Linked DNA regions of Homo sapiens: regions 2, 3 and 4 are each linked to region 1. The links come from fine-mapping of genetic effects on gene expression. A gene starts in region 1. Each other region holds a variant in brackets. All regions are shown on one strand. Distances are from middle to middle.

What was found.
Region 2: its variant is fine-mapped to the expression of NADSYN1 in whole blood (TOPMed, PIP above 0.99).
Region 3: its variant is fine-mapped to the expression of NADSYN1 in sun-exposed skin (GTEx, PIP 0.94).
Region 4: its variant is fine-mapped to the expression of NADSYN1 in monocytes after LPS (Quach 2016, PIP 0.92).

The regions. Positions count from the first base shown.
Region 1 is chr11:71,448,881-71,456,602 of GRCh38, forward strand. NADSYN1 (NAD synthetase 1) reads left to right here and starts at 4,323. Exons shown (of 21, transcript NM_018161.5): 1 at 4,323-4,501; 2 at 6,230-6,290. The coding sequence starts at 4,417. DHCR7-DT (DHCR7 divergent transcript) reads left to right here. Exons shown (of 2, transcript NR_186309.1): 1 at 1-5; 2 at 2,810-3,277. It also overlaps a transcript of DHCR7 not described here. RefSeq lists enhancers at 1-46, 2,992-3,041, 3,162-3,241, 4,479-4,980, 4,981-5,480 and a silencer at 4,052-4,421.
Region 2 is chr11:71,471,891-71,479,612 of GRCh38, forward strand. NADSYN1 (NAD synthetase 1) reads left to right here. Exons shown (of 21, transcript NM_018161.5): 6 at 559-610; 7 at 1,388-1,476; 8 at 1,679-1,796; 9 at 2,505-2,636; 10 at 6,505-6,579. MIR6754 (microRNA 6754) reads left to right here and starts at 1,613; the gene lies at 1,613-1,678. RefSeq lists enhancers at 437-1,344, 1,345-2,251, 4,787-5,366, 5,367-5,946, 5,947-6,526. The variant C/T (reference allele first, on the strand shown) is at 3,729.
Region 3 is chr11:71,576,713-71,584,434 of GRCh38, forward strand. KRTAP5-11 (keratin associated protein 5-11) reads right to left here and starts at 6,163. Exons shown (of 1, transcript NM_001005405.3): 1 at 5,143-6,163. The coding sequence starts at 6,125. The coding sequence ends at 5,655. It also overlaps the pseudogene KRTAP5-14P. RefSeq lists enhancers at 1,923-2,436, 2,437-2,948, 3,371-3,665. The variant T/G (reference allele first, on the strand shown) is at 3,732.
Region 4 is chr11:71,528,102-71,535,823 of GRCh38, forward strand. KRTAP5-7 (keratin associated protein 5-7) reads left to right here. Exons shown (of 1, transcript NM_001012503.2): 1 at 1-568. Among named protein-coding and RNA genes, the nearest start is that of KRTAP5-7, 4.7 kb to the left of the region's middle. RefSeq lists enhancers at 1-55, 7,265-7,324. The variant G/A (reference allele first, on the strand shown) is at 3,615.

The sequences.
Region 1 (7,722 bases):
ATCAGGTAAACACATGGGTGTCAGGGAAGGCTCGCCGCTGGGAGACCGCCAAAGTGACCCGAGATGGAGTCTGGGTGGCCTGCTTATTAGGGGGGCACACCTGTGCGAGGACGGGAGGGGAGGGAGCAGCAGGACTGGGCAAAGGGAGAAGCTGAGCCACAGTGCGAGCCGGACGCACGGGCCACGTTGCGAGGGCATGACCTGGGGCGAGGCAGCCCTGGAGGAGGGGGCAGCTGAAGGTGTCTGCTGACCCCACACCCAACAGCTCGGGTAACAGGCCTTACTGTCAGAGCGATCTGGTTGCCACGTCTCTGTGGCCCTCAGAGAGACATCATGTTTTCTTTTTTCCCTGCACCTTTTTGTTTTGAAAAATGTTCAGCATACAAACAAGTTGAACGTAAAGTGAGCACGCAGATTCCTAGGTTCAGCAGGGGTGAGCAGCTGGCCACGTTTCATTTCTCTCCCTCTGTGTTTATATATGTGTATTTTTCTTTTTTCCTCCCCACTCAGCCCCCACCATTAGCTGCAGATACCGTGATACCCCCCTCCCAAATACTTCGGTATCCAACTCCTTAAGAACAAGAACCTCCTATATTACCAAAATACAATGACCACATCAGTTCAATGCTGTTATCTATTTTCCATCTCCAGTTTCCCGCGGTTGTCCCAATAATGCCCTTTACAGCCCTTTTGTTATTGTTGTTTTGTTTTGCTTTGTTAAGACGGGGGTCTCTGTCACACAGGCTGGAGTGTAGTGGCACGATCACAGCTCACTGCAGCCTTGAACTGCTGGGCTCAAGCGATTCTCTTCCCTCACCCTCCTGAGTAGCTGGGACTACAAGAGCACACCACCACACGCTATTTTTTTTTTGGTAGAGATGGGTGGGGGGGGGGGTCTCACTATGTTCCCCAAGCTGGTCTCGAACTCCTGGGCTCAAGCGATCCACCCACTGTGGCCTCCTACAGTGCTGGGACTACAGGTGTGAAGCTCTGCCCTACAGCCCTTTTTTAAACCCCAGGATCTAATCAGGGAGCCACACTGTGCATTCAGGCTATGCACTTTTTTTGGCAGGATAATATACTACATAGAGCATGTTTTATCTTGTTAGAAGGCTGTCAACCTGAAATAACCAAACAGGTCAGAATTTAGCTTAAAGAGAGTTTATTTAAGTGTATAAAGTTTGAGGACAGGCTGCCTGGGAAGCACAGATTTTAAAGAATGGAAATCAGTATTTTGAACTGTAGATGTTTGGGATCATTTATGTAGACAAATTTTAGGGAAGTTTAACAGAATTTTAACATCTTTTTATGCATAAAGTTATAATCTGACCAGCTGAGGTGGTCTTTTTTAGGTGGAAGGTATATTTAACATTTTACACTGAAGATGTAGGAGTCTGGTCTAAGTACGGGATAATAAGAGACAATCTATAATAAAGATCAGTAATTAAAAGGGGAGCAGGCCTGGTCTGTGGTCTCTCCTAGTCATTTATAAAACATGAATGATAAAGAAAAACAGCCTATAATCTAAAAGACAAAATTACAAACATGCTATGTGACCCAGTTTCTAGGACTTAACTTCCCTCTTGACATAATAAATTTATTTATTTTTATTTATTTATTTAAAGACAGGATCTTGCTCTGTTGCCCAAGTTGACCTAATAAATTTCAAGAGTCCTAAAATTTTCTTTTTTAAGACAACATATCACTGTGCTCCATGATTGATAGTGGGGCTCCGTGGTTTCTGCCAGAAGTCTCCATTTTTCCTTTTGTTATTAATGAGTAATTGGTGCAGTGATACTTTGAGACTGTAAATATGCTGTTCCCAAATGACCTTTCACCCAGTGAACTAGCATTTAATGAGGAATCTTGCCTGAATCCCTTATTTCTTGGGACAAAGTGTTAATTTTCTAATTTTATCATTCCCTCAACATTTATTAATAAATTATTTATTAGCAAGCATTCTTCTGTAGGGATTTCCTCTTTGATTTATTTTTTATCAGTATGCCCTAATGGATTTAGCTGACCGAGTTATGATCCTTACTGTATTGTCCTGTATTTAGCTAACGGGAGCCCCTTCAAATTGGCTTCTTTTTTCATATGACATGTATCTACCATCCTTTGAGTACTTACTTATTTTCTGGGACAACCAGATGTTCAAGGATCCTCCCCTTCTCTGCCCAGGCCTGGCATCAGCCATTGTTGGCAGGAGATAATTTGAGCAGATCGTGTGGATTTCAGAAGCATGAAAACTACTGTGAGGATTAAATAAGTTAGCATGTATAACATTCTGGTGCTTTTGTGGAGTTTCCAAATTGTCATGAACAAGCACTACTTTATAGACAGGAAAAAAAGTGATTCAAAATGTGAAAACGGGTATATGTACATAAGGTAAAAATAAAATCCTAAGCCCCCCATTGACCAAAGGGACCTTCTCCTGACCAAGGGGACACCAGAAAAACCTCAACACTGAATTCCCAGACATGATGGGATGGGAGGTCAGATGCGCCTGGTAATAGCCCCCTGTTTCAGAGTTTGGACACCACAACTGGCCGGCATTCATGTTAAAACAGAGATCGTAAGACTGACAGAACGGACTCTGTGGCAATAAGATACCAAATTATAAACAGGACCCAAAGCCATGCTAGGCGAGGGTAAGTCAGGCAACCCACACTTAGAGAATAAACTATATTCTAAGAGCCACAAGGCTTTCTGTTTCTCTATTAGCCAAACACACACTAGCCTTGGGATAGGGAATATTAAAACAATTGCAGCTCCACTAGGTGCCAACTAACTGACTCTGTTTCACCAGCCATAGCAGCTGTGATTGGACAAGAGACTGATTTCAGTGACTTTCTCCTAATAAGAGACCACCGACCAGCTGACCATGCCGACCAGCTGACCCGTTAATAGAGAGAGATGATGCACCTGCATGCCTTTGTGTCCTGAAAAGACGTTTTGCCATAAAGGCCCTAATTGTAAGATGTGTAAATGTTAAGTCTCCACCCCAAAGTGAACATGGGTCATATATTACATGCTTTGCTCAATAAGAGGGCATGTGTCAGGACCACCTTCATGAATATTCATAGCTCCTCCTGTTACCTGTTGAATATGTATGTTTAGCCAATCCCTTCAGCATAGCGCTCCTGCCCCAACCCCTCCTCCTTGGACGTGCCTGTCTCTGGCCTTGGCTGGAGACAGATTCCCAGCCTCAGACAGATGGCCGCCACCTTGCAGGCTACGACCGTTTACAAGAAATAAAGCCTTCTCTTTTTCCAAATTTGTGAATTGTGTGTTTTTAAACTAACATGAATGACAGAAGGAAGGATGGCCTCTTCAAGCAACGATGATGAGGCAGTTATTTATATGGGGGAAAAATGGATTCTACCGTGGGTGGACTAAAGAGGAAATGTGAAAAAATAAAAAGTGAGAAACCGCTGGTAGTGAATCGGTGCAAGCGCCCTGGAGAAGAGACTTGGCAATATTTAGTAAAGTCAAACAGCACGAACCCTACTACTCTGCAAAGCTGCTGCAGGAACTGGCGGAACGAGGTCACGAAGGAAACCTTGCCGGAAAGGAAATTGCAGCAGTGCCTGTGTGCGTGCGTCTGTTGGCAAAACGCTGCTAATAACGTCAATGCCCATCCGCTATTGAATAAACCTGCTTTACTGCCACTATGGAATACCAAACTGCAGAAAAATAATTAAAAGAACGTATCTCATATTACAGGGGAAAAAATCAAGTTGCAGAAGCACATTCAAGTGCAGTTCCTGTAGTTTCAGAAAAGGCAAACAGTGCGCTACCTGAGCTACTTACACACGTGGTACAGGAGTGAAAGGGGCAGGAGAGGGTTCCCAAGAATTCAGCGCCATCCGCCCAGGGTGGCGGGATTCCCAGCACGGAGAATCGATTGCTATCGTCTGCTGTCCCGCGGGCACGATGGAGCGCTCCTACCGTACTCTCCACTTTTGGTGTATTTGGAACGTTTCATGCCGTATTAAAATAAAACATGGCTAAGCTGGATGTGGGGTGGCGGTGTGGGATAAAATAGAGGGGTGCTGCAGCTGGGCGGTGAGCCCCCTGCACCTGTGCACCTGAACGGGTTTGCCCGCAAGGGCCGGGCCGGGGCCGGGGCCTGGGACGTGGGTGGAGCCGGGGCGGGGGCGGGGCCCTTCGCGGTGCCGTGAACGCTGAGGCCACCTCGCTGCGCAGGCGCGGTCGTGAGCTCCTCAGACGGGGCGGGGCGATCCGTAGGCAGGGCCTGACGCCGCAGTCCTCCTTGGCCGGAGCCTCAACGGATGGGCGGGGAGGGGGCGGGGCCGGGCAACCCGGAAGGTCCGGCGTCCCAGCCGCCTACCTCGCTGGGACCCTGGTCTTGCTGTCCCCCGCTGGCCTCCTGCCCAAGCGACTGCGGCCAGGATGGGCCGGAAGGTGACCGTGGCCACCTGCGCACTCAACCAGTGGGCCCTGGACTTCGAGGGCAATTTGCAAAGAATTTTAAAGAGTGAGTCTGGGGCGGCGGGGGCACCGGTTTGGGGTGGCGCACGGGCACCGTGGCTGGGCCCAGGCTTGCCCGTGGCGTGCTCACAGCCTTGCCCTGGGAAACTCTCGGCCCTGGGCATGGGATCAGGTGAGATAATGGGCAATGACCCCGCCAGTGGTACGTGCTCAGGTCCTCGTCGGGAAGTGAGTGTTTATAGTTCCCGGGGACGAGCGATATACAAGGCACGGTTAAGAAAAGTCTGGCGGCTTAGGCGGGAGGCCTGGGGATGGACCCGTGTTCTGATATCTCTGGGGTCCCGTGGTTGGGACTGAGCTGCCCATTCTCGGAGATATCTAAGTTGAACAGAATGGCTGCGCACTGGCGGGGATGGTGTGCAGAGGCCAGAGATTGATGGTCTCTGGTCCCCGTGGGCCTTCCTGGTGGGAGAAGGCGTCCCAGAAAGGGAAGTAGAAAAAGACGCCTGTCATCCCAGCATTTTGGGGGGGCCGGAGGGGGTGGAAGTCACCTGAGGTCAGGAGTTCAAGACCAGCCTGGCCATCATGGTGAAACACCGTCTCTACTAAAAATACAAAAATCAGCCGGGCGTGGTGGCCTCGAAGATAGGGTGTGGTTGTTGAAAGGTCACCATCTAATTTTCGTTCATATGGACGCACCGTGGAGGATGAAAAGTTAAACTATTACACCTGCACCTAAATGGGCAAGCCTGCAGGTGTAGTCAGGTTGCAGCTTGTCTTGCACTGGTCTGCTGACTGCAAGAGCCTTTGCCAGGAACAATAGAAACAGAATGTTTCAAGAGATGGCATCTAATCAGTATGTGCCCTGGATTATTATTATGATTATTATTATTTGACATGGACTGTCACTCTGTTGCCCTGGCTGGAGTGCAGTGGTGTCATCTTGGCTCACTGCAGTCTCTGCCTCCTGGGCTCAAGCGATTCTCCTGCCTCAGCCTCCTGAGTAGCTGGGATTACAGGCGTCTGCCACCATGCATGGCCAATTTCTGTATTTTTAGTAGAGACAAGGTTTCACCATGGTGGCCATGCTGGCCTCGAACTCCTGACCTCAAGTGATCCACCTGCCTTGGCCTCCCAAAGTGCTGGGATTCCAGGCATGAGCCACCGCAGCCAGTGGTTTTTTATTTTTATTTTTTAAATATCAACCTGCTTTCACCTCATTTGCTCAGAGCAAATCTAGTTGAACTGAAGAAGGCTTGGCCAAAACTAAGTTTCCACTCTGCCAGCCTCTCCTCCCTAGGTGCTTGTTGGAAGCTGCTGCCCAAGACCAGTAAGCCGATGGTGCCTGACAGTGGCACCACTGCTGGATCGTAATCCTCTAAGTCCTTTTTCCTCTAGATGGTGTTGGGCATTTCCTTGTTAATAAACTACCAGGGTCTGACTTCTTCCTCTTCCTCCGCCTCCTCCATGGTGCTAAGGGTCAGACCTGCAAGCCCTCCCTGTTTCTCATTTCCTGCAGATATAAGCAGGTATATGCAAGTATAAGCAGGTGCAGGCGTACTCGTGTATACAGGTGTATACAGGTGTATGCTGCCCTCTGCTGCCATGCTGTCAACAGGAAGCCTGACTGCATCCCGTCTGGGAAGGCACAGAGCATTTTTGTTTGTTGTTTGTTTTTTTTTTTATCCTACCTACTGCAGCAGGTTGTTTCATCTGTCTTTGAGTGTATAGGTGCTGAAATTGCTCCATTTTCTTTTTCTCTCTGTACTTACAGGTATTGAAATTGCCAAAAACAGAGGAGCAAGATACAGGCTTGGACCAGAGCTGGAAATATGGTGAGAACAGACACAGACACCCTGGGGTCGTCAGCTAGCGATACCAGCATCAGTTTTCCCCAGCTGAGAAGGCAAGGAAGGAGCAGGGACAGTCCTGAGAGCTGTGGACACGCCACACCCACTGTTGGGCCTGGTTAATGCCATTGAACACCTGAGCAAGGGCAGGCCCAGGGAGGCTGAATAAGTCTAGATTCCCATGTTGAGTAATTAAAAGAACTGACTTTTACCAGATGAAGGCCAGTTTCAAAGTTGGGCTGCTTCTGTGTTACCACTGCCCTTTTGCTGTGGTCTGAATGTTTGCGTCCCCACAAAATTCATATGTTGAAACCTAACCCCCAGATGATGGAATTAAGAGATGAGGCCTTTGGCAGGTGATTGGGTCATGAGGGCATGAGAGTGGAGCCTGCATGAATGGGATTAGTGCTCTTACAAGAGAGGCCCAAAGGAGCTTGTTGGCCCCTTCTACCATGTGAGGACACAGAGAAGGAGACAACCAGTCCTTACCAGATACCAAATCTGCCAGCACCTTGATCGTGGGCTTCCCAGCCTCCAGAACTGTGAGCAATACATTTCTGCTGTTTATTAATTACCCAGTCCAAGGTGTTTTGTTATAGCAGGCTGAAGGACCAAGACATATTCCCAGGTTTTCATTCCGTGATCTCAGAATCTTTCCACAAGCAAGCATAGGTTATCGTTTCTTATATGCCTTTTTGTAAAAATCAGGAAAACTGATTGCTTATTTCCCTTCTTGTCCCTTCAAAAACAAAAACAAAAATGAAAACAAAACAATGAGTAGCCACGTTGTAAGTCTCTTGTAAGCGATAGTCCTTTCTCATTTTGGATGTCAGCTGCCATCTGTGCTCTGCTAGTTTCCCGTTGGTCTTTAGGCCTCTGACCCGTTGTGGGATCTGGAAGTTCCTCTTCAGTCTTTGTCCCCTGCCTTAGTGTGTGTTCTTGCTTCTGGACTTAGAGTAAGCAGGAACTGTCTTCTCTTAGGAGGTTTTGTGTGAGTCCAGAGGCATCTTTCTCTAAGTCCTTCCAAGTTTCTTTCCTTCATTAGATTGATTTCTCTCCTTAGAATACCACCTTCAAATAGGGCTGTTTCTCCCATAATATCCAAGAATGTTTACTTTGTTCTTTAATTTGTCTTCATTTGATTGATTCTTTAAGAAATTCTTCACCTAAGTGCCAAGGGATCTAGGGTTCTGGGCTGTCTGATATCACAAAGCTTCGATCCTCTCCTGGCCCCGTGGCCGGATCTTCTCCTGGGCTGGACTCAAGGCCTGATCGTCTCGTGAGCCTGACCTCTCCTGGGCTGGTCCGGGGGCCTGATCCTCATGTCCTGTCTGCTGCTTGCCCTGGAGGAGCTGCAGTGGTGACAGCCCAGTCCCCCTGGCCTGATGTTGCCCAGATGCTTAGAGTTTACGTCTTC
Region 2 (7,722 bases), 23 kb after region 1:
CAGCCTATTGGAAGTCAAATGCGTGAACTGTCTGTTTTGAAGATTCCGCCTCTTGGTGGAGCTTCTTGGGACACCTTGCACTAAAGTTGGTATTAAACCCTCCTCCTGATTTCTCGAATTGAGAGCATCATTTTATTCCAGGGATGATACTGGTTTGTCATTGTGTTTCGGGTTAATGCCACACGATTTTTCTGATTCAGTAACAGCGATCAGGAATTCCACCTGGATTTCTCCATGAGGCAACGTGGCCAGTTCTCAGCAAATCCCCTGTGACACATCTCTCAGTAAAGATGAACATGAGCGTGTGGGGAAACTGAGGCAGCCCGAAGCTCGGAGAGCCCAGCCCACCACCATGTCACATAGTCTCCTCAAGCCACCTTCATACTCTTTTCTTTTTACCTGAATGCGATTGTTTATTGCATTGGGGGGAACGCTTGGCAGTTCCTTTGCCAGTTCATCAGTTCGGAGGGTTCAGTTTGAGTTTTGTTTAAATGTAGCCGCCATTCCTCATTTGTCCTGAGATGCTCATCCTCAGCTCCTCGGTGTTTTCCTCTCCAGGCACACAGAGGAGTACTTTCTGCCTCGGATGATACAGGACCTGACAAAGCAGGTGAGTCCCTGGGTGTGGAGCCCGTTTTTCAGTCGGTTGTCGCTGTTCTCGGCCAACAGTGGACCAGGTGGGGCGGGAACGCTTTGGGATCCAGGTAATGGAAGGCACCACAGTGCTCACAGGTCTGAAACAGACAAAGGAGGCAGGTTCCTATAGTGAGGGGGGCTGCGTGGCCAGACAGCAGCCAGGGTGGCTCCTCCTTGCCTTGGGGCTGCTTTTCCTCCCTTCCCCCACTCACACTGGCTTCCTCCTCTTCATTTCCTCCTTGTGGCAGAAGACAGCCTTCTCCATCCCCAGGGGCTATGTTCTGACATTTAAGTGTTATCTAGACCAACAGCAAAATGCCCTACTCTCAATTTTGAATTCTAAGGGAAGGCACCCTGGTGTCCCCTCTCAGCCACTGCCTTGTGGCTGGGAGTGGGGGCCTAGCTTCATCAGCACAGGGCAGCAGCTGCTTCAGTGTGATCACAGGACAGGGTCGCTTCAGAAGCTGCTGGCCCCAATTGGCAGCCCCATCGATGTCCGTGACATTCTGCCCCTTGGCTGCTCAGAGTACAGGCGTCCCCTTCTTCCACACATAGGCTCCTAAGGGCGTCTCTGCCTGGCACCACCCGGTGTCCCATGCGCAGCCGCAGGGCACCCACCTCTTCGGAATGTGCGAGAGCCCAGAGCCAACTCCAGCTCTTGTGGCTGCAGGATGTCCGTGGCCCTAGGTAGTGCGTGGCCCAGACAGGGCATGGCTAGTGAATCTCATGCACTCTTCTCTTCCGACTGCAGGAAACCGTACCCTTCGGAGATGCGGTGCTGGTGACATGGGACACCTGCATTGGAAGTGAGATCTGTGAGGAGCTCTGGACACCCCACAGGTCAGCCCCATGCCCCTGTGCTGTCTGATCGCCCACCTCATATGGGCCAGCTGGGAGGACCTGGGACTGCAGACGTCCTGGGGCCGTGGCCGTGGCCGTGGCCGTGGGCTGGGAGCTGCCGTGGGAGAGTGCAAGGGGCTGCCAGGGAGGCTGGTTTGGAGGAGTCTGGTGGCCTGTTCTCTTCACCTGCCTCTGCCTGCAGCCCGCACATCGACATGGGCCTGGATGGCGTGGAGATCATCACCAACGCCTCGGGCAGCCACCAAGTGCTGCGCAAAGCCAACACCAGGGTGGATCTCGTGACTATGGTCACCAGCAAGGTAGGGGCTGGGCCAGGGAGCGTGCGCCACAGGGCAGACACTGTATCTCAAGAACTCCTGCATCCTCAGTGCCCATCGCAGGGCTGGGCCCACACACAATGGATGTTCCAGGCTAGTAATTATGGCCTGGACTCAACAAGTGTGCCCTGCTGCCCTCCAGGGCTTCGCCGGCACAGCCCATCTCACCCACGCAGCCACCCTATGAAGCAACCCTGTCACCCTCTCTGCCATGACCAGGAACCGGAACGTGCTCCTTGTTCGTTGGCATCATGGTGAGGCGTAGGGAACACCCGTACGTTTGCTGCTCCTGCTGTTGGGCAGTGAGACGTGCGAGGGGCAGTGCTGGTTCATCCTTCACGGGGCAGATGTGGGTCTAGCTGAGCCGCGTTTGAGTCTTGGCTTCATCATGCAGAGCTTTCTTTGGCTTGTCTGAACCTCATCATGCCTGAGGGAGGTGATGGGGTCTGCCTTGTAGGGTTGTTGTGAAGGAAAAACAAATGTTTTGTGTAGAGCCTGGCACCTAGCAAGGCGGGGCTCGCCGCAGCTTCACAGGTCTGTGCTTCCCCACACATATGCGTTATCTCTGCGGTGGTGGGACCACTCAGGATGACCTAGCGGGACTCGGCGGAGGTTCCTGTACTTGGGCAGGTGGCAGGTGAGGGTGGTGGACACAGCTGACCACTCCGCTATGGGGTCCTCCTTTTTCAGAACGGTGGGATTTACTTGCTGGCCAACCAGAAGGGTTGTGACGGGGACCGCCTGTACTACGACGGCTGTGCCATGATTGCCATGAACGGAAGCGTCTTTGCTCAAGGATCCCAGTTTTCTCTGGATGACGTGGTAATGAGCGGGCCTGGACATGCCTGGGGGAGGGTTCTCTGTGCAGAGACCGAGCTCCTGGCTCTCCCCTGTAAGCCGGGTGCTTAGTGAGGGCCCCTGTGGAGAAGCCCCCGGGGGTCCCGCCTGCTCCTGGCTCTCCCCTGTAAGCCGGGCGCTTAGTGAGGGCCCCTGTGGAGAAGCCCCCGGGGGTCCCGCCTGCTCCTGGCTCTCCCCTGTAAGCCGGGTGCTTAGTGAGGGCCCCTGTGGAGAAGCCCCCAGGGGTCCCGCCTGCTCTGATGGCCTCAAATTTACCTGGTTGGTGAGGGGGGACCTCCCGCCCTCGGGTCTGGAGACAGCTGAACCCCGACACACAGCACATAGTAGTGGACGGATGAGGTTGAGGGCAGCTTACGAGTCCTGCGTTCCCACAGTGCGGGAGGAGGGCTCCGTGCCACGCAGGGCCAGGTGGGAGTGTGCTCAGGAACAGAGGGGACGGCCCCCGCTGTGGGAGGCGGGCTCTGTGGTGATGAGAGGATGGGTGCCGCCTGGCCCCTGCGGGTGGGTGTCGTTGGTTTGTTTGAATTCCGAGGGCTGGCAGGGAACCAAAGCCACTCCTTTGAAATTAGCAGGCTCCATGGCCCCTGAGACAGGTCCAGGGATCCCATGTATGGTGAGGCCGTTCAAGGCCCTGTCTGTCTTCCTTGGGTGTTGAGGCCACATATACTCATCTGAGGCCTTATGCCACGCTGCCCCTGAGTCCTGGGAAGCAGAAGTGGAGACCCCAGGACACTCTGGTCAGGGAGGCTTTGTTCTGTGGGGATCTCTGAGCACACAGCGGCCAGCTGCGTGAGGGAGGGCCCTGGGGGAGCTGTGAGTTACAGGTCGGAAGCGCCATTGCTATCCCGAAGCGACACAGATATGTGGGTGCTCCGAGGAAGGAGATGACAGAGAACAAAGCTAAGAACCCTGCTTGGCACATTCCTCACCAGCAACTGAGCTGCCGCTTGGAATGGGGTTCAGGACCTTGTTGGGGCCCCAGATTCCTTTGGGAAGCTGATGAAAGCTCTGCACATTCTGCGGCTAAAGATGCGCATTAGCACAGGGCAAGGCTTC[C/T]CAGGTAATCGTTATCGCCATGGAGGCAAACTTCCTCCACAGAGAAGGGACCACAGTTGGAAAGTCCTTGGGGAGGTTTGGGCCACTCTCCCTTTCGGTTGTTTGTTTGTTTTTGAGATGGAGTCTTGCTCTGTCACCCAGGCTGGAGTGCAGTGGCGCAATCTTGGCTCGCTGCAACCTCCGCCCCATGTTAAAGCAATTCTGCCTCAGCCTCCCAAGTAGCTGGGACTACAGACCCATGCTGCCATGCCCAGCTAATTTTTTTGTATTTACTTAGTAGAGACAGGGTTTCACTGTGTTGCCCCGGCTGGTCGCAAACTCCTGAGCTCAGGCAATCCACGCACCTCAGCCTCCCAAAGTGCTGGGATTACAGGTGTGAGCCACCGCACCCGGCCTCTCTTTCTGTTTTTGAAGCAAACAAGAAAAAATGGGCTATTATTGCCACAAATGGAAACAAATCCCAAGTGCACAAATACAACAAAAAGTAACTTTTAGTTCTGCCCCAAGCCGGCGTGGGTGGGAGCGTCTCCACTCTCGGGCTCAGACCACACGCGGGTCCACAGCACTGCCTCCCACACACAGCATTGCCTGACTCGTCTTTGGACCCGACGGCCTTCCACTCTGCTCTTGTTGGGAATGGGCATTAAAGCAGCGGATTCACCGAGGCAGGCGGTAGCACCGGAGGCGAGTTCTGCAGCTGGCTTTGCAGGAGCAGGGCGAGCTTGTGTCCTGGCGTCGCCGACTCTGCGAGGCTGTCTGAGCAGTTCATTGCTTTGCTCCCGCTGCGTTCCCATCCTCATGATTCTGTCTGGTGCTTTCTGCACAGCATAGGTGTGGTCAGCACGGAGGCGGTTACAAAACCAAACCAGTTTCATAGTGGACCAAGTGAACTTCACCCTGAACAAGAATTCCACGGTCTTTTCAGGGGTTTCTTGCACGGGGGCAGGCAAGGGTGTGGCCGTCTCGACTCCAGGCCCTGCTTTCCACATGACAGTGTCCCCAGAGGCCTCCTTGCGCTTCATCATTAACCGCGACAGAGCTGGAAGGGCTTTGAAGAGAAGGATTAAGTTCCTGCTGATGGGAAGTGTGGTCCTCTCCCCGTTCACGTCAGAGCCACAGGCACATTGGTGGTCGTGTTGATTGGCAGGTGTGTTGGCAATCAATCACCTGCCCCAGGACCCCCGCAGGTTCCCGGCCCCACATCAAGCCACCAAATCGGAGTCCTCGGGGGTCTGTATATTTAGTGAGCACCAGGCAGTTGTTTCGTGCATTAGAATCCGGGAGCCGTTGCCTTACACGTCTCTAGAGTTCCTGATGTTGCCTGAGAGCTCCGTCGTAGGCTGTGGCCACAGGCCTGCTGTATTCAGAGTGGCCGCGCTGTCCTCAGGCTCGGGCCACTGCCCTCCACCAGGTCCTCCGTGGTGCACCTGAAATGGTCAACAGAAGTCTTGTGACACGTGGAATCATTTCAGAGTCACCCCTTCTGCCTCCTGCTCAAGCAACAGACCTGCCGATCACCCCCGTCGGGCCCGCGTTTCTCAGGGTCTTCCTAATCCCCTGGGCTTTCCGGCTTGTCGTGTGCCTGGAGTCAGGCCGCCGTGCGGCAGGCTGTTAACCTAGCCTCGGGGAGAGTGGGATGGAGCCACCTTCTCATGGAACGATCCTCGCCTTCCCTCATCTCCATTGTTTTATGGCTTCACACGGACCGTGGCTTTCTGCATGGAAGCTTGGTGGCCAGGGTGCTGTCACTTTGGGAAGCAGCCAGAGAACCACAGGATGCGTGAATCGGTCTCCTTGTCTTCATGGGCATCTCCGGCCAGGTATGGCCCCCTGTTACGGCGGTAGGAGCAAGGGGCGCGCAAGGTGGCCACGGCCATCCTGTGAACCGCCGCAGTGGTGCAGGTGCTGTTCCCGCTGTCCCACACTCGTGTTTAGCAAGGCAACACTCAGGAACACAATTTGATAAAGATATTTTTTCATGAAGGAATAACCCCTATGAGTTAAAACCTCATTTCTGCATATACCGCAATTGGCAGAACCCCTACCATAGCCGGGTTCAAAGGCAGGGCAGTGTCACCTCCTGTGACACAGGCAGCACGTCCAGGCCAAGACCCTGGTGTGGATGCCGGGGCTGCGGCTCCGCCTCTGCCCTCCCCCAGCTCCATCCTCCTTTGTGTTGGCCTCAGTCTCAGGTTGCTTCTCCAGCTCCGCCCTCCTCTGTGTTGGCCTGTCTCAGATTGCCTCTCCTCGTGGGCATGGGATGTTTGCCCCAGCTCCAGCCATCCCATCTTCACACAGCCACATGCAGAGGCAGCAAAGTGGCCTTGGCTCCTTGCGTGTCTTTTTGATGAGAGGGGTGTTCCCAGAAGTCGCTGGCAGAGGCTTACTGACACTGGGGTGTCTTACTGACAGGGGTGTGTCTTACTGACATGGGGGTGTCTTACTGACATGGGGGTGTCTTACTGACAGGGGTGTCTTACTGACAGGGGTGTGTCTTACTGACGGGGTGTGTCTTATTGACAGGGTGGTGTCTTGTGCTGTGATTAGTGGGTCACTGGCAAGTGTCTGAATGAAGTGGAGGTTCCGGTGGCAACAGTGACGGGGAAGGGCTATGGGTCCGCCTCAATGTCATCTGCCCCATCCCTGGGCCTCCAGGAATCCAGGGTCTCAGCCCCTGCTTTAGAAGGTGTGACAACACCTTTGACAGTGGCCAAATTACACGTGGGAGTTGAACAAACGGGAAATCACGGGTTCTCTTTGAAATTTCCTTCTCCAGGAAGTCCTGACGGCCACGCTGGATCTGGAGGACGTCCGGAGCTACAGGGCGGAGATTTCATCTCGAAACCTGGCGGTGAGTGCTCCAGTAGACACCTGTGTGGGATGCTCATCAAAGACGTGGAAAGTGGCCCCATTCGTGCGGGCCTGGTGGAGGCCGTGAGGGTGCAGTGCCTGAAAAGTCTGACAGGGAAGTTCCGGACTTCCCGAGCGTGGAAAGGGGCTGGTGCCGCAGACAGAACCTGCTTCCATCTGTTCCCCGTCATCCTCTGCTTGGGCCAGGCCCTGAGCTGGGGTGAGCTGGGGACAGGCAGGCAGAGAGGCTGACGAGACAGTCAGCGTGCTAGGGGCTGCCACACAAGGAAGACCCAAGCAGCCTTGGAGCCCAGGAAGGCCTCAAGGTGAGGGGTGGCAAGCGTGGTAGGAACAGGCACACAGTGTGCAGCCGAGGCTGGTCCCCACTTCGGCAGTTGGAGGCAAGGTCCAAGGCACAAGTGAGCCTGTGTCTGAGACCCTGGGATGCAAGTAACGCCCCTCCTGCAGCCCGAGGTCCTGCTGCTGGTAACCTGGAGCTCTGCGTTTCTGCAGGACATCGTCACAAATAGGATGTCCAACTGAGCAGCTGTCATGAGACAGTGATTTTTGCAAACATTGAAGAAGTGTGATGCTCATAACAGAGCGGACTCTTCTGCTGTTGATTGATTGAGACAGGGTCTCATTCCATCGCCCAGGCTTGAGTGCAGTGGTACCATCACAGCTCACCGCAGCCTGGACCTCTGGGGCTCAAGTGATCCTCCCACCTCAGCCTCCTGAGTAGCTGAGACAACAGACACACACCACCATGCCCAACTAATTTTTGATTTTTTTTAATTTTTTTTTTTTTTTAGAGACAGAGTCTCACTATGTTGCCTAGGATGGTCTTGAACTCCTGGGCTAAAGCAATCCTCTTGCCTCGGCCTCCCAAAGTGTTGGAATTACAGGCGTGAACTACCGTGCCCAGCCTTTTTTTCATAGCAGTTTTATTAAGTTGTATTTGCCATACCACCCAATGTATCCATTTAAGCACCTGATTCAGTGGTTTTTCATGTACTCATGGAGTTATGCAGCCACAATCTTAGCGCATTTTCATTACCCCAAAAAGAAACTGTACCCATTATGCACCCCGTTCCCCTCCTCCGGTCCTGGCAACCACAAGTCTACTGTCTGTCTTCATGGATTT
Region 3 (7,722 bases), 130 kb after region 1:
TGGGTCGGAAACGCAAAATTGGCAGGAGGGGCAGGGATGTCCCGTGAGCCCCTAGACCCGAGAGGCTCCTCTTCTCCACTTGTGTTCTGAGTTGAGAATCGGGTCCGCGTCTGTGTCTTTCTCTCTTCCTATTTCTCAGGACAGTCAGCGCCGCGGTCCCCGCCCCCAGCCCCCCATGGCTTCTCTGAGGCTGATGGACTCTCCCCGCCCTGCCGGCCGCCTGCGCCCCTCCGTCTGCATGAGGGGCAGGGTGGGGTCAGAGCAGGAAATCCCTCTGGATGGGGCTGCGGACAAATTTGGGTGAACGATACCCCTAGTTTGCCCCGCTCCTCCATCCCTGGCCTGTCCTCCTCATGTGACTTGGTCACCCTGCAGAACCGGGACTTTTCTTTCCCGCGTGGAGGCTGTAGTACTTGAGGCCCAGGTCAACGTGCGTGGGAGACCCGTTCCAGAACCTGGTGATAGAAGCCGTGAATCCTGTTCCTGAAAAGCCTACACGCACGTGCCCGTGCCCCAGGCCCCGGCGGCGGGTGAGGGGCATCTGTGTTTAATGGGCATGTTCGCTGCGCCTGGCCCTGGACAGGAGGACGCGGTGCACCACCCCGTCCCCAGACAGCCTTGGGTCTGCAGGGGTCGGGGCTTCAGGCTGCCGCTCTTCAAGGAGGACCCGCAGGACTTGGCAGGATCATCAGAGCCTGGAGGGCAGGCAGCTCTGGTCAGGACTTCCAGTGATGACCGCAGGGGGTTCCAGCTACCGGGGCTGGTGATGGGAGCCACTCTGTGCAAGCGCATACACACTCTCTCACACTCACACACTCACACACCCCTACACTGACTCGTACACTCACATGGATTCACACACTCATACACACATTCTCACACTCACACACTCATACACACATTCTCACACTCACACACACTCACACACCTCTACACTGACTCACATGCATTCACACACTCATATACACATTCTCGCACTCACTCACACACTCCTACACCAACTCGTACACTCACATGCATTCACACATTCATACACACTCTCATACTCACACACACACACTGACACACCCCTACACCGACTCATACGCTCACATGCACTCACACACTCATACACATACTCTCACACTCACACACACACTGACACACTCATGCACCTGCTCATACACTCATGTGCACTCACACACTCATGCAAATCCTCATGCATATTTGCACACACACACAGTCATATGCATACTCATACACGCATTCTCTCACACACACACTCATACACTCACATACACACATTCAAACAGAAACAACCCCCCATACACCCTCCACACACTCCTCTAGTGTCTGGGGGCTTCAGACTCTCACAGCTTGAAGAGGAGACACGCATCTCTGCTGAGCGAGCCTCTCTACTTCTCTGATTGGTAAACGGTGGCTCTGAACGGGGTCTGGCCTCTTCCAAGAAGCAGGTGGTTTTTTGGCAGAATCAAGGGGTCGCATGGATTTTCTCTGCTTGTTTTATTAAGACTTCAAAATACAAATCCCTTTAAAACAATCAGTGAACCACTTAAACCAATGCTAATATTATCCTGTGGGATTTATGCAAAATTATGTGACCAATAAGGTGGGTCTCTTTTGAATTCCCTTACTGTTCTGTCTGGCCAGTCCTGCTGCTGGAGTCACCCCAAAAGCTGTGGCAGGGGAGTCACTGCAGGGGCAGCTCCAGCCCCTCCAGAGAGGGGGTCAGTCAAGAGCATTTGTCAGGGGAGGTCAGGAGGGCTGTGTCCCTTTCCCTCCCTTCATCTTTTTCAGAGGATGCCAGCCAAGGCCACAACGCCAGAGGGGGCAGACGTAGGTAGGTCCAAGCCACAGTCACAACTGAGAGAAGGGGGACACGCAGGCATGTCTGCAGCGAGGGCCCAGGCCGTGGAGCTCACATGGGGCTGTGAGGGGTTAGCCTCAGGGTCTGAGATAGCTTCTGCATGTTTAGCCACGTGTTTGAGATTTCACTGTTTTGGGCATCAACGTGAACACCTTTCTCAGTGTTCAGGGCCTGGGAATGTTCACAGCACAGCGTGGCTTCAAGCCTGCTGGGAAAACGTGCAGCTGGCCAGGTCACAGGGTGGGCAGGACACAGAAAGAAGTGGGTCCTGGAGGACTCTGCACTGGCTCAGGAACAAGGGAGCCCCCCTTCCCTCCTCCTTTCTCTCTATGCCTCTCCCAGCCCTTCGTCCATCCAAGCAGTCACCATGCTTGAAATTCTACTCCCAAAGCTATTTTTAGAGTTGGCTGGTCTCTTCCCTGTCATGCTGCGTCTCAGACCCTCTCACATCTGCCCCGCTCGGCCTTCTCGCCACCTGGCTGTGGAGGACCTCAGTTACCCCTCCACCCTATCGTAGGGGCTCCCCAGCTCCCGTCCAAGCACCCCAAGGCCAGGCGCCACGCTGCGTTCTTCTCGCGCTCCTGGTGCATGCAGTGGTGCTTAGCAAACTGTGCCGCATGTAGGAGTGGATCACCCAACAGCCTGATGTGATCAGGAAGCGCAAAGAAAGGGGGTGCTTTAGGGCCAGGAGGGAGGTTGAAAGGCTCATTCAAAAGGAACAGCAGGAAAAGGGCCACACTGAAAACAGGACTCGTGAGGGGAAGCGATCGCTTATTCAAAGGAATCACAAGGTCAAGGCTCAGAATTTGCAGAGCCCAATAGACAAACGGCACCAGGAGCTTTCCTGGGACTGTGCCTGGGAGGAGAGGGTTTAGAACATCAGGGTAGAGAGAGGTGGTGCAGGAGAGGAAGAGGAGCGGTCTCATGCACCATGACAGCCGCGCATGGTGAGACGAGGGTGGTGAGGGGCTGTGCCCCGCACAGGGCCTGTGAAGGCTCTTCCTGTTCCAAATACTGCTGCTCCAGCATTCTAGAAAACAGTCACCCCAGGGCTGTGATTCACGGCTTTATGCTGATACATTGGTCTCTGTCTGGAGCATGTGGATGAGAGCCAATATGACTGTGTGTTAAAGATCAGATCTTGTACTGACAGCAAATAGGGACACAGCAGCTGGACTGGGAGCAGCAGGGCTTGCAGCAGCTGGACTGGGAGCAGGTTGATCCACAGCCTGAGGAGCAGCAGCAGAGTTTGCAGCAACTGCACTGAGACTGTTGCCCAGTATGAAGTGCAGTGGCGCAGTCACAGGTCACTGCAATCCCCATCCCGTGGTCTCAAGCAATCTGCCTGAATAAACAAGACTACAGGTGGGTGTCCCCATGCCCAGGTACTTAAAATAAATTTTTTTTAAGTTAAAGATAAGATCTCTCTTTATTGTCCAGGCTGGATTTGATCTCCTGGTCTCAAGTGATCCTCCTGCCTTGGCCTCCCAAATTGCAGGGATGACAGACATGAGCCACCACATGCAGCCTCTTTTATGTCTGGTATCATTTCCTTTCATTGTTCATTAGCTCCTTTGGGAACAGTACGCTACCACTGTGATCTGTTTCATGGCAGGCTTCCCAGCTTTCTTCCATTGCCTGTAGGGACTTACCAAGGGCCCTTGCACCCACTCACCACTAGAGGGAGGAAAACCTTCCCCATTTCAGGAGCCGAATTCAAAATTCACGCTGTGTTTTCCGGCACGCACCTGTTGGCTCTTTCGAGGTTCCCCTGTTTTCAGCTCTGTTAGATGTTTCTTTGCTTTCTCCTACACAGACACTGATACTCTGGGGAACTGTGGCTCTTGGAAACTTGTCCTGACAG[T/G]CTTGTGTTTTGAGGCTCACTTGTTCATTTTTTGTTTGGTGTTTTTTTGTTTGTTTTTGTTTTGTTGTTGTTGTTTGTTTTTTGTTTTTGGTTTATTGAGACAAAGTCTCATGTTATGTTGCCCAGGAGTTCAGAGGCATGATCAAAAGTCACTGCAGCCTCAAACTCCCAGGCTCAAGCCATCCTCTTGCCTCAGCCTCCTGAGTAGCTGGGGCTGCAGGTTTGCACCACCATGCCTGGCTTACCTGGTTTTGTTATAAATCTCCAGCATGCATTTTTGGTTTTGTTACCTAGTTGCTTGGTGTCCTGTGGGTTGTGGGAATGTACAGGGCTCAGATGTAATGAACTCTGCGTTCATGTCTGCTGCCACCTTCTGGAGTTTCCCAGTTTGGATTTTTGAGTGAACTGTCTTAAGCAGCATTTCCTTTTAGCGTTGTGAAACTATCAATAGCCATGTCCCCTAGCAAGATGCACCTTTGACACACTTTTATTCCCTCTCCTAAATGTGGTTGAAATAATCTAAGCCTTTATTTCTAGATTATTTCATTTTTCCTTACATTGCATCTCTTTTCTCTCAGAAATTTGTCTTGGAAATTCCCACTCTGCTCTTCCCCGGCAGTATCAGCAGTCGCTTAGATCTGTGAGTGTTCTGTGGGAGCTCATTTCTCACCAGCACTCCCTGTGTGTTGTCTTCCCTCCACCTTTTCCCTCCGGGTTCGCTTGGCTGGAAATCGTCCTCAGATCACTCTTGTCCCCTCCTCCCCAGTGCGTGATTTCTAAAGCCTTGCCTGTGACACTGGTCAGAGAACAGGCTCAGCGTGGTGGCGCATCACCATGAAACAGATGGACTTGGCTCAGGGTCCCCAAATGTGTCACTTCCCAGGAACTCTCCTTTCCTGCCGGGAGACTGAGCTCCGAGGACACCTTGGGCCATTCTGTAACTTCCTGGTTACCTTTAGTTATGGAAAGCCGTTGACCTCATAATTGTAAAAGGCTAATTGAGTGTTTGAATCAGAGTGCGTTGGAGCTCAGCGGTGCTTCACTCCTCCCTCCTCCGACCTTGCCCTGCCTGGGTCCTTCCAAGGCCCCAGAGGAGAGCGGGAAGCTGGAAGCCATGGGTCTTGTGCAAAGCCCTGCTTGGCTGGTCATCAGGACTCAGGGCCCGCCTGCCCCTCTGCGCCTCTAGGGTGGGCATTGAATACCGAATCCTCCCCAGGCTGAGCCCTCTTCTTCTGCAAGCAGAGAGAGTGAAGATATTTGAGGCCGCGTGGAAGGCAGAAGTGAACTTCGTGGTTCTTTTTGAATGCACCAAGCCTGCTGGCAGGCATTTCCCAGCTTAGCTGACAAATTAGAACACAGAATCAGTCACCACACAGGAAAGGGGTTAGACAGAATTGCACCAAGTGTACAGTTGGTTTACAGACATGAGAGGCTTTATTGCAAGGAAATTCATTCATTTTTTTTTTAAATAGATGGAGACAACAGGAAGGAAGGAGACCTTCTTGCTCACAGGTGGGTCACAGGAGAACAGGCAGCAGCCCAGGAGGACCCAGAATCCCAGTGGTGGTTGAGAAACTGGTTCTTAGTGATCACTCAGGAATGTCGGCCTGGCCTTGTGGGGTCAGACCTAGCATCTCAGTCAGCCCAGGGAGAAGAAGAAGATGGTCCACACCCAAGTGCAGGGAACACCATGGCGTCCAGGGAAGAACACCTCCTGCATCAAGGAAACACATGTTTCCGGAGTGAGGAAGCTGAAGGCAGGGCCTAGAGGAGAGCCGAGCCATGGAAAGAGGTGCATGCATGGATGATGAGCTAGAGCAGGTGCAGGTGCCTCAGGATGATGTGTGGGATGAACTGATTCAGAGAAACCATAAGAAATGCTTTCACCAAAGAGGAGAAACCTGAAGGTCTGGGTCCAGAGCCTCAGATCTTACACTGGCAGCACACGGGGACACAGCAGCTGGACTGGCAGCAGCAGGGCTTGAAGCAGCTAGACTGGCAGCAGCTGGATTGGCAGCAGCAGGGCTTGCAGCAGCTGGACTGGCAGCAGCTGGATTGGCAGCAGCAGGGTTTGGAGCAGCTGGACTGGCAGCAGAATGACCCACAGCCTGAGGAGGAGCAGCAGGGCTTACAGCAGTTGGACTGGGAGCAGCCACAAGAACCACACCCACCCTTGGAGCTCCCACAAGAGCCACAGCCCCCTTTGGAGCCCCCACAGGAGCCACAGCTGGAGCAGGAACAGGCTGGCACACAGCAGCACACAGGCTTGCAGCAGCAAATGGGCACACAGCAGCTGGAGCCACAGCCCCCACAGCCAGAGCCACAGCCCCCACTGCCGGAGCCACAGCCCCCACAGCCAGAGCCACAGCCTCCAGAACAGCCACAGCAGCCCATGATTCTGGCGGATTGAGAGTAGAGCAGGTAGAGGAGCAGGTGAGAGGGAGGTGCAGGTGTGGAGCCCCCTGAGCCTGGGCTCTTTATATACCTGTCCAGAGGTCAGGGAGGACGCAGGGTCCTTTCCTTGTGACTGTTTACACTATTTTTCCAGAGCTCTATTTTTTTCCTCTTTGCTAGTGACTTCCTCCTGGCTCAGTTGAGCATCTACTTTCTTTGTTTTCTAAATTTGTCTTCTTCCCCATTTGTTTTGGCCCCTACAATTAAAACCTCAGCTCCAGGCTGGTCTGGTGCTTCCCGCAAAGTTCCAGGGTGCTGGTCACCCGCTCTCTGCTGACCACATGTGACCAATGGGCAACAGCCTCTGCCCACATGCTCTCATCTTCCCTGTCTATCCCTCCAGATAATATTAATTTTATGTTTTTAGATTTCAAAATTCACCCATGGTCTTTATAGGAAACACAAGTAAAGAAGAAAACAAATTCTTTATTATCATGTATCCTGGAGATGGATTTGGTAGATTTCTGCAAGCATAATATTAATATAAATATTCATGCATATTATATTAAGTAATATTTTACTCATGCCAGTCTCAGTTTTCTGGGTGTGTTAGACCGTTCTTTGCATTGTGTAAAGAAATACTTGAGGCTGGGTAATTTATAAAGGAAAGAGGTTAGAATGGCCATGGTTCTGCAGGCTGCACAAGCATTGCACCCATCTCCGCTCGGCTTCTGGGCAAGCCCTCAGGGAGCTTTTCCTCATGGTGGAAGGTGAAGCAGGAGCAGGCACGCCACATGGTGAGAATGGGAGCAAGGGGTGAGGAGGGGCCACACACTTGTGAACAACCAGATCTGAGTGAACGCACTCATCACCAAGGGGATAGCGCTAAACCATTCATGAGGGATCCGCCCCCATAATTCAAACATCTCCTATCCCGCCCCACCAATGTGAGAGTTGGAGGGGACATCCAAATTGTATCAGTGGAGATCCTTTTTTTTTTTTTTTTTTTCTTTTTTTGAGACAAGGTCTTGCTCTGACACCCAGCCTGGAGTGCAGTGGCATGATCATAGCTCACTGCAGCCTCTAACTCCTGGGCTTAAAGAATTCTCCTTCCTTAGCCTCCTGAGTAGCTGGGACTATAGATGTGTGTCATCATACCCAGCTAATTTTTAAATTTTTTGTAGAGATGGGGTCTTGCCAAGTTGCCCTGGCTGGTCTCAAACTCCTTGTCTGCAGTGATCTTCCTGCCTTGGTCTTCCAAAGTGTTGGGATTACAGGCATAAGCCACCATGCTCAGCCAATTTTTTTTTCCTTTACGGTCCAAATAACAATAATATAATCTCATTTTGGTGTTTGCAGGGAATCTCTTCCTCTACTCAAGCATTTCTGAAAATCCCACAAATCTCTCTGCTGTTGTTTTCTCTCTTCCCCATTTACAGTGTTCACTCCTCTTAGGCTGCTTCTTCCAGTTGCCCACTTTTGTTCCCTGCTCAGTTTTACTCCAGGTGGGAAAGAGAGATTTCTCTATGCCATGGTCTGCATGTGTCCCCCAACATTCATGTGTTGGAAACATCATCCCCAATGCAAGAGTGTTGTG
Region 4 (7,722 bases), 79 kb after region 1:
CTGGAGCAGCTGGGCATGAGTGTCCCACCTGCAACAAGGTGGGCGTTTAAGAGGCTTCCTTGGAGTGGCTTTGCCTGTCCAACACTCTGCTTTATCTTAAATGAAAAGTTGCAAACTAATAAAAATACCATGCCGACAAACTGAAACACATATCTTGCTGATTTCTCTGTTGTTCGGGGTCATTACTATGGCTATGGCTATTGTTTTCTTGTTCTTGTTGTGTTTCGGACTGCGTGGGTCTGATGCTGATGTTGCTGGAAGGTGCTAGGATGGGGCTGGCTGTCTCCTCTGCCTCTCATCTCCTTCCTGGCTGACCCCTCTTTTCTCAGAACCCCTCTCTTCCTAGGTCTTTCCAGCTATTGATCTGATGGAGACAGGACTGTTCCTCAGGCCAGGGCCACAGAAGCAGAAGAGGCTGCTGAAAACTCTGGGGAGTTCAGACTTGCCTCCTTTCCCTGGTCCAGGCCTCTGCCATCTTCCTTTGGGAAGTTTTTGTAACCAACTTACTCTGATTGTCTTTGTTGTTACACAGCCTGTTGCCTCTGTAAATAAACACTCCTAGCACCAAGCCAATATTGCTTTTTAAGAATTTTGAAAGGGCCGGGCGTAGTGGCTCACGCCTATAATCCCAGCACTTTGGGAGGCCGAGGCAGGCGGATCACTTGAGGTTAGGAGTTTGCGACCTGACTGGCCAACATGGTGAAACCCTGTCTCTACTAAAAATATAAAAATTAGCTGAGTGTGGTGGCACGTGTCTGTAATCCTGGCTACTTCGGAGGCTGAGGGAGGAGAATGGCTTCAACCTGGGAGGGGGAGGTTGTGATGAGTCGAGGTCGCGCCACTGCACTCCATTCTGGGCGACAGAGCAAGACTCCGTCAAAAAAAAAAAAAGGCAATATTAATAGAGTTGAATTATTTCAAGTTATTTGGAAACACAGCAATTTATTGGTGGGATATGTCCTAAGCATAGAAAGAACACAAAAATAAAATTCCTAAGCTATTTTTAGTAGTCATGGTGGCAGCAGTGGTGTCGTTATTCTGCTGTGAATGCTGTATGGAAAAAGCAAATGCATAATTAGGTTGGTATCAGAACTAGAATTTTTGGTGTGGAACTGATGAGGTTAAGTAAAAACCTTGTCATCCTGAATTTGAATTAGATATATCGATATGAAATCATGATGTTTTTTATCCAAATAAAAATAGTTTCCTCCTCCATTGGAAGACTTAGAAATAATGAGCCATCCTGTAGCAGTGAACACTCCTAGCACCAAGACTGTTTGTTATCTTCAAATGCTATTTATTGTATCTACCTGGAACCTGGCTTCTCTGGTGAATGGGCTGGAAGCGAACAAGACAAATCTAGAACATCTTGTTATCCCAGAAAGCAGAGATGATAACTAAGACTAATGCAGTCACATCAAAAGAACTAAAGAGTCAGCCGGGCAAGGTGGCTCATGCCTGTAATCCCAGCATTTTGGGAGGCTGAGGCGAGTGGATCACTTGAGGTCAGGAGTTCGAGACCAACCTGACCAACATGGTGAAACCCTGTCTCTACTAAATACAAAAAATTAGCCAGGTGTGGTGGTGCATGGCTGCTGAGGCGAGTGGATCACTTGAGGTCAGGAGTTCGAGACCAGCCTGACCAACATGGTGAAACCCTGTCTCTACTAAATACAAAAAATTAGCTGGGTGTGGTGGTGCATGCCTGTAATCCCAGCTACATGGGAGGCTGAGGCAGGAGAACCCTTTGAACCTGGGAGGCAAAGATTGCAGTGAGCTGAGGTGGCGCCATTGCACTCCCGCCTGAGCAGCAAGAACAAAACTCTGTCTCAGAAAAAAGAAAAAAAAAATGGTGAGAGGCAAACCTAGAGAAACTCTCTGTAGACAGACTTGGGACAACCTGAACACCAATTTCTTAAATGGACTGATACACATCAAATATGTTTAAACTAGGAGTGAGTAATCATACACAAAAAATAATAATACAGATCCTATGCAAACTGTAAAACTTAGTTGCCTTTAGAGGATTCTAGGAATCAGTTCATTATTTTAAAGATGACTAAGTAAAGGAAAATAATCAGGCACTTATTCTATCTCTGACAGACAAACTCTATCTTATGGTAACAAAATTAGAGGAAGTATTCCAGTTTATAAATAAAGAAGAAATCATAGAATTAGAAACTCATCATTTTGTAACCCCTAATGAAATAATGGGGCTATCAAATTTACTGCATGCAGCCAAATCAGTGGAAAATTTATAGCCTTAAATGCATATGTTAGAGTAAAAATGAAAAACTTAAGCTCATTTAGCCAAAAACCTATCTATAGGACTGGCAGCATTGCCACGCAGAGCACAGAATGGGGTGATAATTAGGGCTATTTGTAGGCATCCTGGTTCTCCTCTCCTTCTGGGAACAGGTTGGATGGCAGGTAATAGGGTGGCCCTTTCATGAGCCCTCTCTAAGTCAGGTGTGGCCATGTGATTTGCTTGCGTCAGTGGGAAGAAGTTTGAAGCACCTGCTGCAGTTTTCTGCATTCTCTCTTTCTTCCCCCACCATGACCACTAACGTTCCAAGCAGTGGCTGCTGCTTCCGACTGAGTCCCAGAGTGATGAAGTACAGAGCAGAGTCACCAGCTGATGTGCAGTGACCTGCGATGTGAACAAGAAGTAAGCCTGTGTCGTGTGAAGTCACTGAAACGTGGGGGTGGCGCGTGTGAGCAGCGTAATTGGTCTATCCTGGTTGACCCAGAAACCTACCAGAACACAAACATAGCATTGTGGCCTTGGTTTATTGGTCAGGGGGTGGGTGGAAAGGAAAGCTATCGGAGGCGAGAAAGGTAGTTATTATGTGTTTGGTAAGACTGTCCTAGATCGTGTATCCCTGAGGGAAGAGTTCAGAAAACACAGTGCCACTCCCGCGTGGGTCATTGTGGCTGCATTTATCAAAGCATTACAAGAACAGGGTGAGCTCGAAAGAACCGGCTGGTTTCAGCCAGGAGGAAAGTTCTAGAAAGCCTGGAGAAACCTGGGGAGCTACAGAGTTCTCAGTTCTGCCTGGTAAATGATAAGACTTAGAAGGCCTTTGAGCAGCAAAGGACAATTAAAGCAGAAATGAAAAGAACCGTCTTTAAGGGTACACTCTGATGAGATTCCATGAGGGCGGACCACACCACAGGTAGGGAGTTGGTGGCTGCCTCCAGCCTTGCCAGTGGGGCAGGAGGGGCTGCTGTGGGGTCAGTGGATCCAGAAGACGCCAGAAACTTCTCCCCACTGTGGCTCACCAGGCGTTCTCTTTGCTTGGCCTGTGGCTCCCGTGGGTAAATTTGTGTCTTGCTGTGTAATAAAGAGGTTTCTCCAGGGAAGAGGGGGAAGTCTTTGGCCCAGGCTGGACCAAGTGACCTGCAGATTAAAGATAGCCTCACTATCACAGTAACAGGCACCAAAGAAAGGCCTGCTGCCGGCCATTGTTGGAAATAGGCCCAGCAGAACCAATGCTGTCTGTGCTTGTGGTGTGGGGGGTAGAAGAGAAATCAAAAGAAACCCCAAACCGGCCAGGCGCGGTGGCTCATGCCTGTAATCCCAGCACTTTGGGAGGCTGGGGCGGGTGGATCAC[G/A]AGGTCAAAAGATCAAGATCATCCTGGTCAACATGGTGAAACCTCATCTATACTAAAAATACAAAAACTAGCCGGGCGGGGTAGCACGCATCTGTAGTCCCAGCTACTTGGAAGGCTGAGGCAGGAGAATTGCTTGAACCTGGAAGGCAGTGGTTGCAGTGAGCCAAGATCCTGCCACTGAACTCCAGCCTGGCGACACAGCGAGACTCTGTCAAAAAAACAAACAAACAAACAAACAACAAAAAAACCCACAAAACCTTCCTTAAAAATGAACAGATGTCACATAATTGTTAGCAAGATTTAGGACATAGTTGTAACTCTCCATGAAATCAACAAAGAGAAAATCACGTGTTGGATATTTTATGCATTTTTTTGATAAAATCATAGGATTGCCTGTTGCAACATCCTTCATTTCACAGTTGGCCGTTACAGAATGACGCTGAAGACATTACAGAATGACGTTACAGAATCACGTTGCAAAACCAACTGAGCTCCTTCTCATCCTTCACGAACGCCTCTCTTCGAGGTCAACTCACCCCATTGGGAAGTCCCTATCTTGTCTCCTTGGCCAGCTTCTCTTTTAGGGTGAACCGCCTGATCTTCACTGCAGTGGCCTTGCCTGGCTCCCAGCAGATGTTCTCCAATGTCACTTTCAGTGACATCACAGAATCCTACATTTCTTTCTTTTTTGCAAGCATTGCAATTTTACTTAAAATTTGCACTGTAAATATGACTGTGGAAAATGTATTTAAGAGAGCTGGTTCTGCAAAGACAGGGAAGAGATTTGGGAGGCAGGGGTGTGGGAATAAGCGATATTCTTAAGTAAGTGAGCTGCTTGAGTGGAGGACACTTTTAGAAGTGGTCAGCTTGGGCTTGGCATGGTGGCTTACTCCTGTAAGCCCAGTATTTTGGGAGGTTAAGGAAGAAGGAACACTTTAGCTCAGGAGTTCAAGACCAGCCTGGGTGACATAGCAAGACCCCGTCTCTACAGAAAAATAAAATAATTAGCTGGGCTAAATTATTAGCTGGGCTAATAATTTTTTTATTTTTTTTCTACAGAAAAATAAAAAAAATTAGCTGTGGTGGTGCACACCTGCAGTCCCAGCTAATGGGGAGGCTGAGGTGGAAGAATCTCTTGAGCCTGGGAAGTTGAGGCTACAGTGAGTTATGATTGCACCACTATACTCCCGCCCGGGTGACAGAGTGAGACCCTGTCTTAAATAAATAAATAAATAAATAAAAGACATGGTCAGCTTGTTTACTTGTTTGTGATTATTTTCTTTTTTTCCTTCTTCTTCCTCTTTTCTTTTCTTTTTTTTTTTTCAATAGAGGTAGAGTCTCACTGTGTTGCCCAGGCTAGTCTTCAACTCCTAGGCTCAAAGGATCCTCCTGCCTCAGTCTCTCGAGTAGCTGGTACTACAGGCATGCACCACTGCCGCTAGTGAATATTTTCAAGACCAGATGGTCCCCCCAACCCAAGGAATCTTGGATAATGAGTGAAGGGAGACCCTGTATGGGGCCTGGAGAAGCTGGCTATGTGTGGAGTGGTCACTGAGGGAGCATCTTAGCATGAATCTTGGTCAGAGTGATCGGGGAACCAGACTCAGTCTGGAAACAAGCAGGGTACACCTTCAGCTTACAGACAGCAGATTGTGGAGCTGCTCAGCCTCCATAATTACATAGTTCAATTCTTCAGAATCATCTGTGTATCTCTCTATCTATCTATCCATCCATCTATCATCTATGTGCCTCCATATCCATTTATGTTTTTGTTGTTGAGATGATCAAGTTGGTTCTAAAATTTCGTTGGAAAAGCAAAGGAATTGAAAAAAAGAAAACAATCTTTAAAAAGAAGAATGAGGTTGAAGTCTCACAATACTTGACTTCAAAATCTCCCATAATGTCACAGTGACGCTGTGTTTGCATTAGGAAGCAGCATACAGACCTGCGGAGCAGGACACAGGAACAAACTCGCCATAGTGTCGGCTGATTCTCATTAAAAACATCAGCGATTTCAGTGGGATAAGGATGGTTGGTTTATTTATTTGTTTATATAGTCATTTATTTATTCATTTTTCAGATGGAATTTTGCTCTTGTTGCCCAGGCTGGAGTGCAATGGGATGATCTCGGCTCACTGCAACCTCCACTTCCCGGGTCCAAGCAATTCTCCTGCCTCAGCTTCCCGAGTAGCTGGGATTACAGGCCTGTGCCACCACACCCACCTAATTTTGCATTTTTAGTAGAGACAGGGTTTCTCTATGTTGGTCAGGCTGGTCTTGAACTCATGACCTCAGGTGATCTGCCCATATAGGCCTCCCAAAGTGCTGGGATTACAGGCAAACCACCTTTGTTTGTTTGTTTGTTTTGAGACGGAGTCTCACTTTGTCGCCCAGGCTGGAGTGCAGTGCCACAATCTTGGCTCACTGCAACCTCTGCCTCCTGGGTTCAAGCGATTCTCCTGCCTCAGCCTCCTGAGTAGCTACGATTACAGGCGCCCACCACCACGCCCAGCTAATTTTTGTATTTTTAGTAGAGATGGAGTTTCGCCACGTTGGCCAGGCTGGTGTTGAACTCCTTACCTCAGGTTATCTTACCTCGTCGGCCTCCCAAAGTGCCTGGATTACAGGCGTGAGCCACTGCGCCTGGCCACGATAGTCTTTTTATCAAATGCTGCTGAAACAATTGGATGAAAATGTGAAAAAATGGATCTCAACTCCTACCTCACATTACACACAAAAATTAGCTTGAGATCCAGCATAGAACTAAATATAGAAACAAAAACTCTAATGCTTCTAGAGGAAAAGCTAGGAAAGAGAGTTTTCAAAAAGGTCACAAGAAAGCACTAGCTGTCAAAGAAACAAATGTTAAATTGCACTTCAAAATCAAAAACGTTTCCCTATAAAAATAAGATAATAATAAGGCAAATCAAATACTGAAAAATTATATATTATGTATTATACATACATATATATTATATATACACATATGTAGGGAAAAGAAAGAGAGATCAGACTGTTACTGTGTCTATGTAGAAAACGAAGACATCAGAAACTCCATTTTGACCTGTACCCTGAACAATTGCTTTGCCCTGAGATCCTGTTAATCTGTAACTTTGCCCCAACCTTGAGCTCACAAAAACATGTGTTGTATGGAATCAAGGTTTAAGAGATCTAGGGCTGTGCAGGACGTGCCTTGTTAACAAAATGTTTACAGGCAGTATGCTTGGTAAAAGTCATCGCCATTCTCCAGTCTCGAGTAACCAGGGGCACAATGCACTGCTGAAAGCCGCAGGGACCTCTGCCCTGCAAACCTGGGTATGGTCCAAGGTTTCCCCCCAGGTGATAGCCTGAGATATGGCCTCGTGGGATGGGAAAGACCGTCCCCCAGCCCGACACCCATGAAGGGTCTGTGCTGAGGAGGATTAGTAAAAGAGGAAGGCCACTTGCAGTTGAGATAAGAGGAAGGCCTCTGTCTCCTGCCTGTCCCTGGGAACTGAATGTCTCAGTGTAAAACCCGATTGTACATTTGTTCTATTCTGAGATAACAGAAAAACCCCCCTGTGGCAGGAGGCGAGACATGTCGGCAGCAATGCTGCTCTGTTATTCTTTACTCCACTGAGATGTTTGGGTGGAGAGAAGCATAAATCTGGCCTACGTGCACATCCAGGCATAGTACCTCCCCTTGAACTTAATTGTGACACGGATTGCTTTGCTCACATGTTTTCTTGCTGACCTTCTCCCCACTATCACCCTGCTCTCCTGCCTCATTCCTCTCGCTGAGATAGTGAAAATAGTAATCAATAAATACTGAGGGAACTCAGAGGCCTGTGCCGGCACAGGTCCTCCGTATACTGAGTGCCGGTCCCCTGGGCCCACTTTTCTTTCTCTATACTTTGTCTCTGTGTCTTATTTCTTTTCTCAGTCTGTCGTCCCACCTGATGAGAAATACCCACAGGTGTGGAGGGGCTGGCCCCCTTCACACATATATGCATGTATATAAAATACATGTGTAAATATATATATATATACATACATATGGCAAAGCATTTCATTCATATATTCTTGATATTGAATTTATGAAGAGTTCCAACAACTCAATAACCCTACA